Homo sapiens: one gene and its partners. The protein of the gene in region 3 interacts with the protein of the main gene of each other region in a pairwise test. Each region holds a gene or a part of one and is shown on either strand. Other genes may lie near its edges.

Region 1 (2,167 bases), on a different chromosome or scaffold from region 3:
CTCAGGGCCAGGGCAGGTATGCAGGAGCCACAGGATTGAACCAGAAGTCAGGTGTTGCTGGCGAGACGGGCAACTGAGGACTGTGGGTGTGTGCCAGGGAGAAAGGGTGAGAGGGACCGGGGGCACCAGTAGGGGAGGAAGCTGGGCAAGGACGGGTGGCCCCAGGGAGGGACTGGGAACCTTCCACAAATGCCTTGTCTAGCTTGGGCTGAGCTCAGGATCCCTCATGTAGACCAAACCATACTGGATCACGATGGAGCAAAAATACTTCTCCAGGTTTTCATATTTCTCTTAATCCTAACACTGAATGTGGTCCGTGGCCGGGCCTCTTCTGTGTGTGCACCCCACACCCGTGGGGTCCACCCACACCCTGTGCCATCAGCCCTCAGGGCACAGCACTGCTGCACGTCAGTTCCCACCTGCTGAGTTGGACTTCGAACATCTACAGACCAGGTGAGTTATGGCACCTCATTTTTGGTCTTTGCTCCTTACAGTAGCCCAAGTGACTTTTTCCCTAGTATGGTTTCTTTTAAAAGATAGATCCTGTCATGCTTTTACTTAAAATCTCCCTATGCCTTCTAACTGCCATTATGATAAAACCCAAACCCCTGACCTTGGCTTCTAGGATACACACGACAGGCACTGCCTACCTGAGCCCTACCAGTTCACACCAGCCATGGCGGCCTCCTCCATGGCTGTCCGCTGCCTGGAATGCACCCTCCTCGGAGTCCCCCAGACACGAGGAGATGTGTGCATCTCCCACCCACTGAGCCTTCCAAATGCCACCTGGCCTCTGCTGGGGACACAGCTGGACGTTCCTGTGCTGGTCACTGGGCATCTGACCAAATGCTGGCTCTTCAAAGTGGCCTTGACCACCCCACCGGCTCCTTCCACCTCTATTCTCTCATTTTCAGAGCACTCATCATGGCCCGAGGTCATGTATGCTCTATGGAAGCATCTGCCTCTGTCTCCAGAGGGTCAGGTCTGGGATGCAGGCTCAGCCCTGCTCATCTCAGGTCTACCTGGGAAAGCTTAGACCAGAGGTGCTTGGGGATGCCTGAATGACTACATGAACAAATGAACGGATGAGTCCTTTCTGAGTGTATGTGAACACCCAAAGGACAGATCTTAAAACCATTCCCGGAGGAAAATAAATGAATGTGCACCTGCAGTGTAGGGTATACATTTAGTTCCCTGGAATTCTGTGACAAGACAGCCTTTTCCTGTATTAGCTACCTGCACACCCATAAAAGTGGAGAGCGTTCAGAAGAGGACGTGAACACGAAAGCAGCAGCGCCCATCACTCACCTGCTCCTTCAGCTTATCCACTTTCTCTTGGAGGAGCATTTCCATATTCTTCAGAATCATCTCCGCCTCTTCCACCCGCTCTTCTGTGGCTTTCAGCTGTTTCTCATGTTCTTCCTGCCATAAAAGAAGGTTGCAGGTGGCCGGGCATGGTGGCTCACGCCTCTAATCCCAGCACTTTGGGAGGCCGAGGCGGGCGGATCACCTGAGGTCAGGAGTTTGAGACCAACCTGGCCAACATGGTGAAACCCCATCTCTACTAAAAAAAATAGAAAAATTAGCCGTGTGTGGTGGTGCGTACCTGTAATCCCAGCTACTTGGGAGGCTGAGGCAGGAGAATCACTTGAACCCAGGAGGTGGAGGTTGCAGTGGCACTCCAGCCTAGGTGACAGAGCAAGACTCAGTCTCAAAAAAAAAAGAAAAATTAGCTGGGCGTGGTAGCGTGCACCTGTAGTCCCAGCTACTTGGGAGGCTGAGGCAGGAGAATCACTTGAACCCAAGAGGCAGAGGTTGCTGTGAGCCGAAATAGCACCACTGCATTCCAGCCTGGTGACAGAGTGAGACTCCATCTCAAAAAAAAAAAAAAAAAAAAAAAAAGCCAGGTGCAGTGGTTCACAACTGTAATCCTAGCACTTTGGGAGTCTGAGGCGGGCGGATTACCTGAGCTCAGGAGTTCGAGACCAGCCTGGGCAGCACAGTGAAACCCTATCTCTACTAAAATACAAAAAATCAGCCGGGCATGGTAGCGGGCGCCTGTAGTCCCAGCTACTCGGGAGGCCGAGGCAGAATAATTGCTTGAACCCAGGAGGCGGAGGTTGCAGTGAGCCAAGATTGTGCCATTGCACTCCAGTCTGGGTGACAG
Region 2 (3,500 bases), on a different chromosome or scaffold from region 3:
CATTAAATGACCTGGTCATGGTCACACAGTAAATGAGAGTGTCAAAATATCACCTAACGTTCTAATCCTAACCTGCTAGAAAGTAAACTCTAGAAGGGCAGGCATTGCCTCTCTTGGGTTCACTGCCAGCACCTAGCACAGCACCATGCACACCACTGGGGTTAATGCTAGTATCAGTACACATGCTCAGAATAAATATTATGAGAGTTAACTGCACTTCACAAAGAAGCCACGTAAGTAATAAATGGACAGTAGCTCCATCTCATATCACGAACAAGGCTAACTTGTAATGAAGAACTGCAGCAGCCCCCATTTGTAAACTAGAAGTGTTTTCCTTTTAGAATAACGAAATATTTGAAGAAAAACAGCCACCCATTTCCAACTGTTACATGGTAGAATGAATCAATCTACCATTATTTTTTTGTTAGTAGACTATAACTACAAGATAGTATTCTAGGATATCTGGTCAATAATACAACCAAGTTAATGATTAGTCCACCCTTCTATATAAATGTTGATTTATGATTACTATATTCATCGTCTAGGCTGAGATAATTTTGAAAATAAAGGGGTGCTATTAATATTTATTCACAGGAATAATGGCAACAGTCTTAGGCAAACCAGAACCTACGAGTCAACTTAGTTCAAAGTAAAAATATTCTCCTTTTCTTCTTTCTTATGGCACCTGCAAGAGATCCCCTGCATAGCTTGGCCTACATTTCTTGTTTCTTGCTTAAATTTCCTGACAAAGTGATGTTAAAAATAGAGACAAATTACTAAATAAATACATGCATATGCGTCATCTAAGGATACACAGCAATTTTCAGATATAGCCCATATTAGGATTTCAAAAGCAGTTGATTATAAAATTGACTTGCAACAATAAAAGCTCAACTATAGGATACGTCAATAACACAGACTTGTCTTGTCAATGTTTAAGATGACTACTTCCAATTTAACCTCCTTCCCATTATTGAACTGTAGCAGTCACCATCCCATAGTCCCATTTTTCAATCACTGACTTTTATATGCCTTATCACAAATCCTGAGGGACTCTACAGAAAAAGCCGAAGCTTCTTCCCACCAGCAATCAAAACCATACAAACCTCTGTCAGCTGCTTCAGTTGGTTTTTGTTTGTACTTAATTCTTCTGCTAGGATATTCTTTTTCACTTGTAGTTCACAGATTTCCTTTCTTAATGGATTCACTAGCTCATAGAAGCGAACCTTGAAAAAAATTAAATTAATAAGCAGTCTTAAATCCAAATTACAATTAAAATTTGTAATTTGTAGTGCTCTCACTTATCAGTAATAAAGATAAATATTTACAAAACTACAACAAGACAGTCATTAATGGACCCTAGCCACTAATACTTTCTATCAAGCCTTAATGTTCAATTAACTTCCCTCAAGGGCCAGATGATTTATAACCTCTTACCTTTGACAGTATTTCCTCCCTTCTACTGACACTCCATTACTACTCATCTACTACTGCTCACTCCACACTAGGTGCTTGTAAACTTCTGGAACATATCACAAATGTTCAGGAGTCTTGCTCTTGCTGTTTCTTCTGCTAGAGAAGTTCTTCCCCCATATAAATGCATGGCTCATGCCTTGTCTCCCTATAGGTCTCTGACCAAATATTACCTTGTTAGTAAAGCCCTCCCTGATTTCTTTACCTAATTTTAAGTAGCACTCCCTATTTTTCACCCCTGCTCTTTTCTCTGTAGCACCTTTGACAAACAGATATTCTACATATTTAATTTTTAAGTTATTGCCTGTGTTGCTCCACTTTCACAACCTGAGGGCAGGGATTTTTGTCTGGTTTATACACCGCTGTATTTCCAATGCCTAAATATATGATAAGCACTCAATAAATACTTGATGAAGAGGTAAAGTGTATTCTTTATTTTCATCCCAGGCTCTTGGCAAAGCTTTATTTACTGCTGTCCCTACAGTGGAAGTCTAATCAGAATGAATCAAGAGGTATCTTTCACATCATTACTTCCATTTAGTTCAGGTCTCTCTTTCCACTCATACTTGTCTCAGAGAAATTTTCCTACCCTAGCTCAGTAAAGTGTTCCATCTGACAAGGTCCCATAAAACTAAGAAATCATCACAGCAAATTAGGAGAGAGTAATTAGGGGCTATCATATAGGCATGCAATCTGAAACTCCTTAACATATGACGGTATTACAAGAATACCATTATTTGGTAAGAGGCAAATCTTAATACTAGCCCTCAACAAAAAGAATCTGCATATAATTAATTAGTTAAGGATAATATTGTCTGTGAAAACAAAAGATGTAAGAAGGAATATTAAGAAAACAAACAGCAAAAATATGTGTAACTGCCACCAGTGTGATACTTTATATCTACTGTAAATGAAGCCTCAAAAACAGAATTTGAGATATTTAATTTGTTTTGGACAGTATACTTTGGACAGAAAAGCTGTATTTGAGCCTTTTAAAAAAAAAAAAAAAACAGCTGAACAAAAAAGTAACTTCATTTTATCAGACATCACTAATCTGCAAATCTTTTCCCAATGAGAACCAAGAATAGCAACCACCACTCCAGCAAAAACAATAGACAACATTTTTATGTGTTTACTATCTTCTAAGCACTATGCTCACAAGCATTTTACATACATAGTTATAGTCTTTACAATTATCCCCAATAGAAACGCACCGTTACTATTAACCCTTTTTAGGGATTAAAAAATTCAAGCCTCTCAGGGTAAAATGACATCTACATATTAAAAAGCAGCAGTTCTCAACATATGGTTTTGGGACTCCTGGACTCTGCCCCACTCGCCACTCTGAGATCCTTTCAGGGAATTCACAAGATCAAAACGACTTTCCTAGTAATTATTAAGATTTTTTTTCCCCGTTTCATTCTCATTCTCTCATGACTGTTCAGTGGAGTTTGCCAGTGGCTACATGACATATGACATTATCACTCTTAAGGCCAATGGAATTGTGTGCTTATTCTTGTGTTTAAAAAAGTTGTTAGTTTAAAATTCTAGTATGGTAAATATTAATAGATACAGCCCATATAAACAAACACTCATTGGGGTCCTCAATAACTTTTAGAATGTAAATGAATGCTGACACCAAAATATTTGAGACCACTGCCATAGATTAATCCTAGGTGTTCTAGATTTGTGTAACCAGCACTGCAATCAAGATCTTGCGCCAATCTCTCACCACAAAGTTCTTTCTCATCCTATCCCTTTATAACCACGCTGACTCCTCTCTCCCACTATCCCCAACCAACCCCTGGCAACAACTACTCTGTTGTTTATAATTTTTCATTTTGAGAATGTAAGAAACCACCAGTTTACGATAATTCATTTCTATGGACTATGCAGTCATTAACTTCAGAAACCTATTTATTGCTTGACTTTGGAGATCAATGGTCATGATCCTTTAAAATTTGGATCTCAACACCATTCACCATCCATAGCCATAAAATAATGTATCAATTGGGTACTTCAAAAGT
Region 3 (4,400 bases):
TCTTATCTCCTGGTAAAGTCAATTTTTGCCTGAGTGGTTTTAATTCAAATGCCTGAAAAGTTTTGACTTGTGTTTTCTCCTCAGGAGCTACTTCTTTACTTGAATCCTTTGTAATACTGACATTATCAGTGCTAGTTTGGTCCTCGAAGTTCAATGTTTTAGGATCTTCCTGCACATTCTCTTCTTTGCTACTCAATGCTAGTTTTTCATCCTTATTGATGCATTCTAGTTCCAACTGTATTTGTTTATACTTTAAAAGCAAATCTTCAAAAGTTTCTTCCACACAGTTTTCATTTTTTGATGAATAATTTTGTTTTCTTGATGGAGACCTTCCAAAACTTTTGGCTGAACAGCATATTAAGGAAACCAGTTTCCAAAAATTTTCCACAGTTAAATTTAACAAAAAAACTTAGATTATAGATGAATTTTCTCCCTTTTTAATTTTTCAAGAAAAATGAATCGATATTTTTAAATTACTAAATTCCATTTAATGTATGTGCAGCTAATGCCCACTTTCATTACGTGCCCATATTTGAATTTAGTAAGTACCATATAAACAGTCCACTTACAAAATCACTAGTGTCATAATTACCAGTAGTATCCACAGACAGTCCACCTAGTTAGGTTATAGCATCATTCCTTCTGTGCCAGGAAAGTCCATAATTAGCTGTATGTTAGAGATTATTTTCTGAAGGAAGAGGGGAGAAACTGAATGCTTTGTCACAGATGCGGATAGTTTACACTTCAGGGGGCCAGGCGCGGTGGCTCACGCCTGTAATCCCAGCACTTTGGGAGGCCGAGGCAGGAGGATCACTTGAGGTCAGGAGTTTGAGACCAGCCTGGCCAACACAGTGAAACCCCATCTCTACTAAAAATTAAAAAATTAGCCAGGCGTGGTGGTGCAGGCCTGTAGTCCCAGGTACTTGAGACGCTGAGGCAAGAGAATTGCTTGAACTCAGGAGGCGGAGGTTGCAGGGAGCCAAGATCACACCACTGCACTCCAGCCTGGGCAACAGAGGGAGACCTCATCTCAAAAAAAAGAAAAAAAAAAACACTTTAAAATAGTACTCAAAATATATCTATTTTTCTCCTACAGACAAGGGAAAATGTTATGAAAATAATCTGAAGCAACTGTTCTTACTTTCTTCTCTAACACAGTGATACACAAAAGGTAACTTTTTCCTTAGAAACAGCTACAAAATTTCAAACTACAATTTTTATTCTAAACAATTCATACACGAGAATTGTTATACCTCATTTTTCCAGGCCAGATATTAGCAAGAGAAAAGACAGTACCTCCTGTGGTTTTAATACATCATTTATAGATTTTTTTTTTTTTTTTTTTTTTTTGAGACAGAGTCTCGCACTGTCAGCCAGTCTGGAGTGCAGTGGTGCGATCTCGGCTCACTGCAACCTCCGTCTCCCAGGCTCAAGCAATTCTCCTGTCTCAGCCTCCTGAGTAGCTTGGATTACAGGTGCGTGCCACCATGCCCAGCTAATTTTTGTATTTTTAGTAGAGATGGAGTTTCACCATGTTGACAAGGCTGGTCTTGAAATCCTGACCTCAGGTAATCCGCCCACCTTGACCTCCCAAAGTGCCGGGATTACAGGTGTGAGCCACTGCACCCAGCCTATAGATTATTTTCAGTTGGCTAGGATGTAAAATACAGTACCCCAAATACGGTTCTTCTGTTTAAACACCTCACAGGGCAAGCAGCAGAAAAGGTTTTTAAACTCTCCTGATGACCAGTTCTAAAAATGAGAATTACCATCATCTAAGAAACAAAAATAAGCAATAAGTACATCTGAAAATCTTAACAGTTCTACAGCAAAACTGTTCTAGTAAATCTCTGGTTCTCTGATCTCTTCAAAGCCAAGTATCCTGAAAGAAAACTAGTTTCTCTGTACCCTTCTTACCAAATGGAATCTGGTTTCTGTCCCATTAATCTAGAGAGACTGCTGTGGCTAAGTTTCCCTATCAATGTTTTCAAACTTTATTTTTTTTTACCTGACCCCTCTGAGAATCTGACACCATAAACCACTTCTCTCTTGGCTTCCATAACTCCGCATCTCCCTTTGTTTCCCTATTTGTGTTTTGTCTTTTAAGTCTCCATTGAGTCTTTTCTCTCTAACTTGTGAAATAATGGTGCTCTTCAGGGAGCACTACTTAGCCTCTTTCTCATTTTGAGCATTCTAATGCACCTCCACAGTTTTACCTACCACAGGAGAGTTTACCCTGGTGATAAGATATTTCTCTTATCTCCTACAAGCCATCCTTCATACTGCTGCTGCCAGAGTAATCTTTCTAGAATACAAATATAAGATCATTCCCCTTGTTTAAATTTCCCTAATAAAAAAGTCCAAAATCCTGAGAATAAATATAATCTGACCTGTGCTTTCCTTTCCAAACTTACTTTTTCCTTGTTCATCACAATTTTTGCATAGCTTTGTGTCTAAGTTTGTCTGTTCTTCAACTTAACCCCAATTCAAGTGTCACCTCTGTGAAGCCTGAGTTTCTCACTCTCCCTTCCCCTCTTACACACTCTTTGTATGTAAGTTCTGTAATTATCTGCATTTACATCTTACTTTTCACTGGAGCCATTTAAAGGCACAACTGCAATTAAAAAAAAAAGAAAAGAAAGGGAAATGATTAAATACACTAACAAAAATGCTAAATAGAAAAATAAGGAAAAGCAATTGAGTTACAACTATAACTGACTAATCTCCTTCAAGGCTAAAGAAAATCTATCCCTATCTATACAGAAGCCTAAGATCAAACCAACACTTACCAGATTTAATTTTAAGCTTGTCAAGATACAATTTCTAACTGAACCTTGGTTTAAACAAAAAGAAGTGCTATTCAACCTTTTCAGCTGCAGCTGAAAATGGAATGACTTTTTACTGATGAGAGACACTAGCCTAATTATGTTAGCTCTCCTCAGATTTGAAAGTTTAAAAGAGTAGTCATTCAAGGGAGACATGCTAAGATGTACTGACAAAGTGTCTATCATTAAGAAAAATTAAGGGTGAAAATAAGAACTGCAATTGAATCTAGTTTATTCTATTTCTTTAAAGTTGCAACTAGCATATCTTAGTTATTACAGTGAAAGGAGTTATGGCAAAAATAGAAATAAACCCTATACTCAGGCTACTTTACTTCTAAATTACAGAAATATGCCACAGAGTAACCTGCATTCTTTCTTTATACAGTATTTGTAAAATAAAAAAGGTATTATTATAATCACATAGTGGAAATATGAATTAAACTGAGTACAACCTTGATATTAAATAAATTTGAATGAAGTGTTGTAACAAATATTTTGTTTGCTCACATTATATAAAAGTAGCTGGGAACTACGTTTTCCTTCTCAAATTCTTAAAAAGAACACCACCTCTAGGATGGATTACTGATACTTCATAGGGAAAACAATGAGCAGGACATCAAAACAAGCATCCTTTTAAGTGCAGCATCTGTGAAAAGAAAAACAACAAGATATCTTATTTATGACAAGTTACTACGGAAATCAAAGTCACACAAGCAGACTGGATATTTTCTGGTACTTTTTTTTTTTTGCAACATCATATGCCAGTTTACTAATAAAAACATGCAAGCTTACCAATTAATAAAGGTCTATGGTAGAGGCCCAAAATAGTATTGAATAAACACGCAGAAAGAGGACAAAAGCAGAAAGCCCACTCACCTCCCCCTTTTCTAATACAGAATAAAAATTTTAAGAAAAACCTTTGAGCTCCCATAGTACTTTTTTATATACATACTTCAGTTTCAACTTTTTATACTAAACTGCAACTACTTATTTTCATTTGTTTCCCTAATACAAACTACAGGTTTCATCTTTGTACCTTTAAAAAACACATATAAACTGGTGGCTCTCGCCTATAAATCCCAGCACTTTGGGAGTCTAAGGAAGGAGGATCTCTTGAAGCTACAAGTTCAAGATCAGCCTGGGCAACATAGCAAGACTTCGTCTCCCCAAAAAAAAATTTTTTTAAATAAATTTAATAAAAATTTTTTTTAATTAAAAAAATTTAAAAACCATCCACATTGGCTGGGCACGGTGGCTCATGCCTGTAATCCCAGCACTTTGGGAGGCCGAGGTGGGCGGATCACGGAGTCAGGAGATCGAGACCATCCTGGCTAACATGATGAAACCCTGTCTCTACTAAAAATATAAAAAATTAGCCGGGCGTGGTGGCGGGCGCCTGTAGTCCCAGCTACTCGGGAGACTGAGGCCGAATGGCGTGAACCCGGGAGGCGGAGCTTGCAGTGAGCCGAGATCACACCACTGCACTCCAGCCTGGGCGACAGAGCGAGACTCTGTCTCAAAAATAAATAAATAAATAAATAAAAACCATACACATATATATGCTTAAATAGCCTT
Region 4 (2,784 bases), on a different chromosome or scaffold from region 3:
TCTGTCACCCAGGCTGGAGTGCAGCAGATCGATCTCGGCTCACTGCAACCTCCACCCCCTGGGTTCAAACGATTCTCCTGCCTCAGCCTCCTGAGTAGCTGGGATTATAGGTGCCCGCCACCATGCCCAACTAATTTTTGTATTTTTAGTAGAGACAGGGTTTCACCATGTTGGCCAGGATGGTCTTGATCTCCTGACCTTGTGATCCACCCGCCTTGGCCTCCCAAAGTGCTGAGATTACGGGCGTGAGCCATCGTGCCCGGCCCATTATTTCTATTTTTAATAGTCCATCTAATGCGGTCATGATAGCAACAATCACAATGTCAACCCCTCTTGAAGGTCACATGTTGTAATGACTACAGAGTTAATGAGTGAACCCAGTTCAGCTTACTGAAGTCCAATAACAAAAAAGTAATCTGGTTTGACATTAAATTATAAGGTTATCCTCAATCATGCATCAACCTGCAAGTCTTGCTGAGAGGAGGAAGCTAGACAGCTACCTGAACTGTGTTTTCACTTTGATGGGGACGGGTAAGAGACTGAATAAATGTTAGGCATGGTGTGGGCCAGATATCTACACAATTAACTTAAATTTTTGTACTTTTCAATCATTTGTTCTGTTGCCACTTAGAATAACATAATTGTTGCCAGAATATGATGGGGGAAAATAAAGGTAAAAAGCATTTGAGCATTCTCCCTTTTATTCAAATTCCATAGCAACGTGTATACCAACTAGACTCTCAATGCCTAAGTGCAGAGACCACATCTAGTCATTTCTGAATCCTCCATCTGGTAATATACAAGTAGAGGCCCACCTAATATTTATCCAATGTTGAATGAATAAATAAATGCTTGCTGAATAATAAATGAATGGGTGAATAAATGAAGTGGCTGTTGATGCAAGAAAGAAAGCCAATTATCCTTGGAAATTTGCCCTGGAGGAGGAGGCCTCTGGGTGATGTTCTTGGTTTAAAGTTTGTGAATTCTGCTTCATAGCTCTGAGTTGTGGCATTAGTTAAGCTGAACCCACTTTTTGCTAAAGTGAAGGGGTTCCTTTGGCAGTGACTTTTCTATATCCCTTCTCTGTGGCTCATACCACATTTTTTTTTTTTTGTTTTGGCAAAAGGCTAAGATTAAACCTCCCCTCTGACTTATATTTTTCCTTCATAAAATATTGTTAATTTCCAACACCAATCTGGAAATAGAAATAATGGGAAGATAATTTTTAAGTATGACAATTATATCTTCTTTTCATGTCTACCCAATAAGGGTCAAACAGACAATTTCCCCAAAGTGCATTTATGCACAGAAAATGGAATTCAAGTGGTCAGGCGACCACTTGACGATTGAGCTGGTCCTAAGGAACTGAAGTAAAAAAATGTGAAAATGAGGCTGGGTCCATAGTCTAAGTGTATACATTCGTTTTTTAAGAGCTGTAATACACTGCTGTCTATAACCTTTCCCGGGTGGATGCTTTGTGAGATCAAATGCAGATAATAATAATTCTCCTTAATTACACACAACGGAACAGCAGTTGGTTGTAAGTCAGCACTGGGGTAAAGTGAAATGGTGCTGATCCAAAAGAGACTAAGAAACGGGGTGGGGGCGGGGGGGGGGGGTGCCCAGGAGTGGGTGTTGCAGGGACTTTTGGCAAACTGTTAAGAAATAGACATTCAGCTACATTTATTGTTAAAATATTTTAAAGGACTTTGTGCTTTGAATGAGATTTTTGCATACAAATGTTTTAAAACCCTCTATGGTGAAGCATCAAATAGAAACTGAAATGATCAAAAATGTATTTACCCCCTTCTGTGATCTTATTATTTCATGTAAACCACTGAGATTTCACGCTGAAATAATTATCATTAGTCCAAGGTGCACACACAAGAACAAGGGAAAAAGCTACTTTCAGGGTATGTTATCTCACCTTTGTGATCCTTTACATTTGATTGTATACACGCATTGTAAGACGAACTACTTCAATTAACTATGAGAACAATATTGATTTGCATTCTGATAATGATCACAGGACATATTTAGAAATAGCTGGGGGTAAATATTTCTATTAAATTAATAGCGGCAACATTTTATTTAATTAAACTATAAATGAAATTGGTAATGGATGTGATTAACATAATGACACCAAAAGCCAGTTTTTGAAAGTCTAATGCAAAGGACACGATGGCCTCTGCCGTATTTTTGTATGGCAAAACCAAGTATTTTTCCTCTCTGGAAAAAGATATCAAATTCATTTGTATTAAATTTCCCTTTGCTGTCTGAGTAACACATTTATCATGCATCACAAAACAATTGCATAGGTTTTTCTTGTATGAGATACTATTTTATATGTAAACTAATATTCTTTGTGTTAAGCAAGCTTTGCAGCTTGCCAGTGAAATATATTTCAGTAAGCTATTTGCAAAGAAGAATAATAATCTTTTCTTTTACCTTTACCATCCTAATTAGTGTTTTCAACTGATAAATATGAAGCTGTAAGTCCATCCGGTCCGTCAACCAGGTGCAGATCACGTTCATGGAGCTGTTGTACCATTGCTGAAAAAAGAGACAAAAGTTCTCCAGCCAACACATCATGGAGCATTTATAGGGCAGAGAGAGAGCAGGCAATGTTTGAGTACCCCACTCTGTTCCAGGAGGAAACAAAATGGTTAAAGAGAATTTGAGAGCATAGAGTTTAATGAACGTTAGTTAGTTTATACAAAATTGCAAGGTACTGGGTACTGGACCAATCCAAGACAGACAATCTAAGACAGTTAGGACTTCGAA

Evidence for each region. The genes of interacting proteins can lie anywhere in the genome.
Region 1: the proteins of ZFC3H1 (region 3) and NINL interact in a two-hybrid assay, tested with the Homo sapiens proteins (one large-scale study listed by BioGRID and IntAct).
Region 2: the proteins of ZFC3H1 (region 3) and PIBF1 interact in a two-hybrid assay, tested with the Homo sapiens proteins (one large-scale study listed by BioGRID).
Region 4: the proteins of ZFC3H1 (region 3) and CADPS interact in a two-hybrid assay, tested with the Homo sapiens proteins (one large-scale study listed by BioGRID).

The regions. Positions count from the first base shown.
Region 1 is NC_000020.11:25,454,365-25,456,531, forward strand, and holds part of NINL (ninein-like protein), read right to left. Parts: intron 1,423-2,167; coding exon 1,309-1,422; intron 1-1,308. UniProt on the Homo sapiens protein: Involved in the microtubule organization in interphase cells. Overexpression induces the fragmentation of the Golgi, and causes lysosomes to disperse toward the cell periphery; it also interferes with mitotic spindle assembly.
Region 2 is NC_000013.11:72,795,633-72,799,132, reverse strand, and holds part of PIBF1 (progesterone-induced-blocking factor 1), read right to left. Parts: intron 1,227-3,500; coding exon 1,107-1,226; intron 1-1,106.
Region 3 is NC_000012.12:71,656,957-71,661,356, forward strand, and holds part of ZFC3H1 (zinc finger C3H1 domain-containing protein), read right to left. Parts: exon of another isoform or gene 3,415-4,400; intron 346-3,414; coding exon 1-345. UniProt on the Homo sapiens protein: Subunit of the trimeric poly(A) tail exosome targeting (PAXT) complex, a complex that directs a subset of long and polyadenylated poly(A) RNAs for exosomal degradation. The RNA exosome is fundamental for the degradation of RNA in eukaryotic nuclei.
Region 4 is NC_000003.12:62,400,633-62,403,416, forward strand, and holds part of CADPS (calcium-dependent secretion activator 1), read right to left. Parts: intron 2,554-2,784; coding exon 2,449-2,553; intron 1-2,448.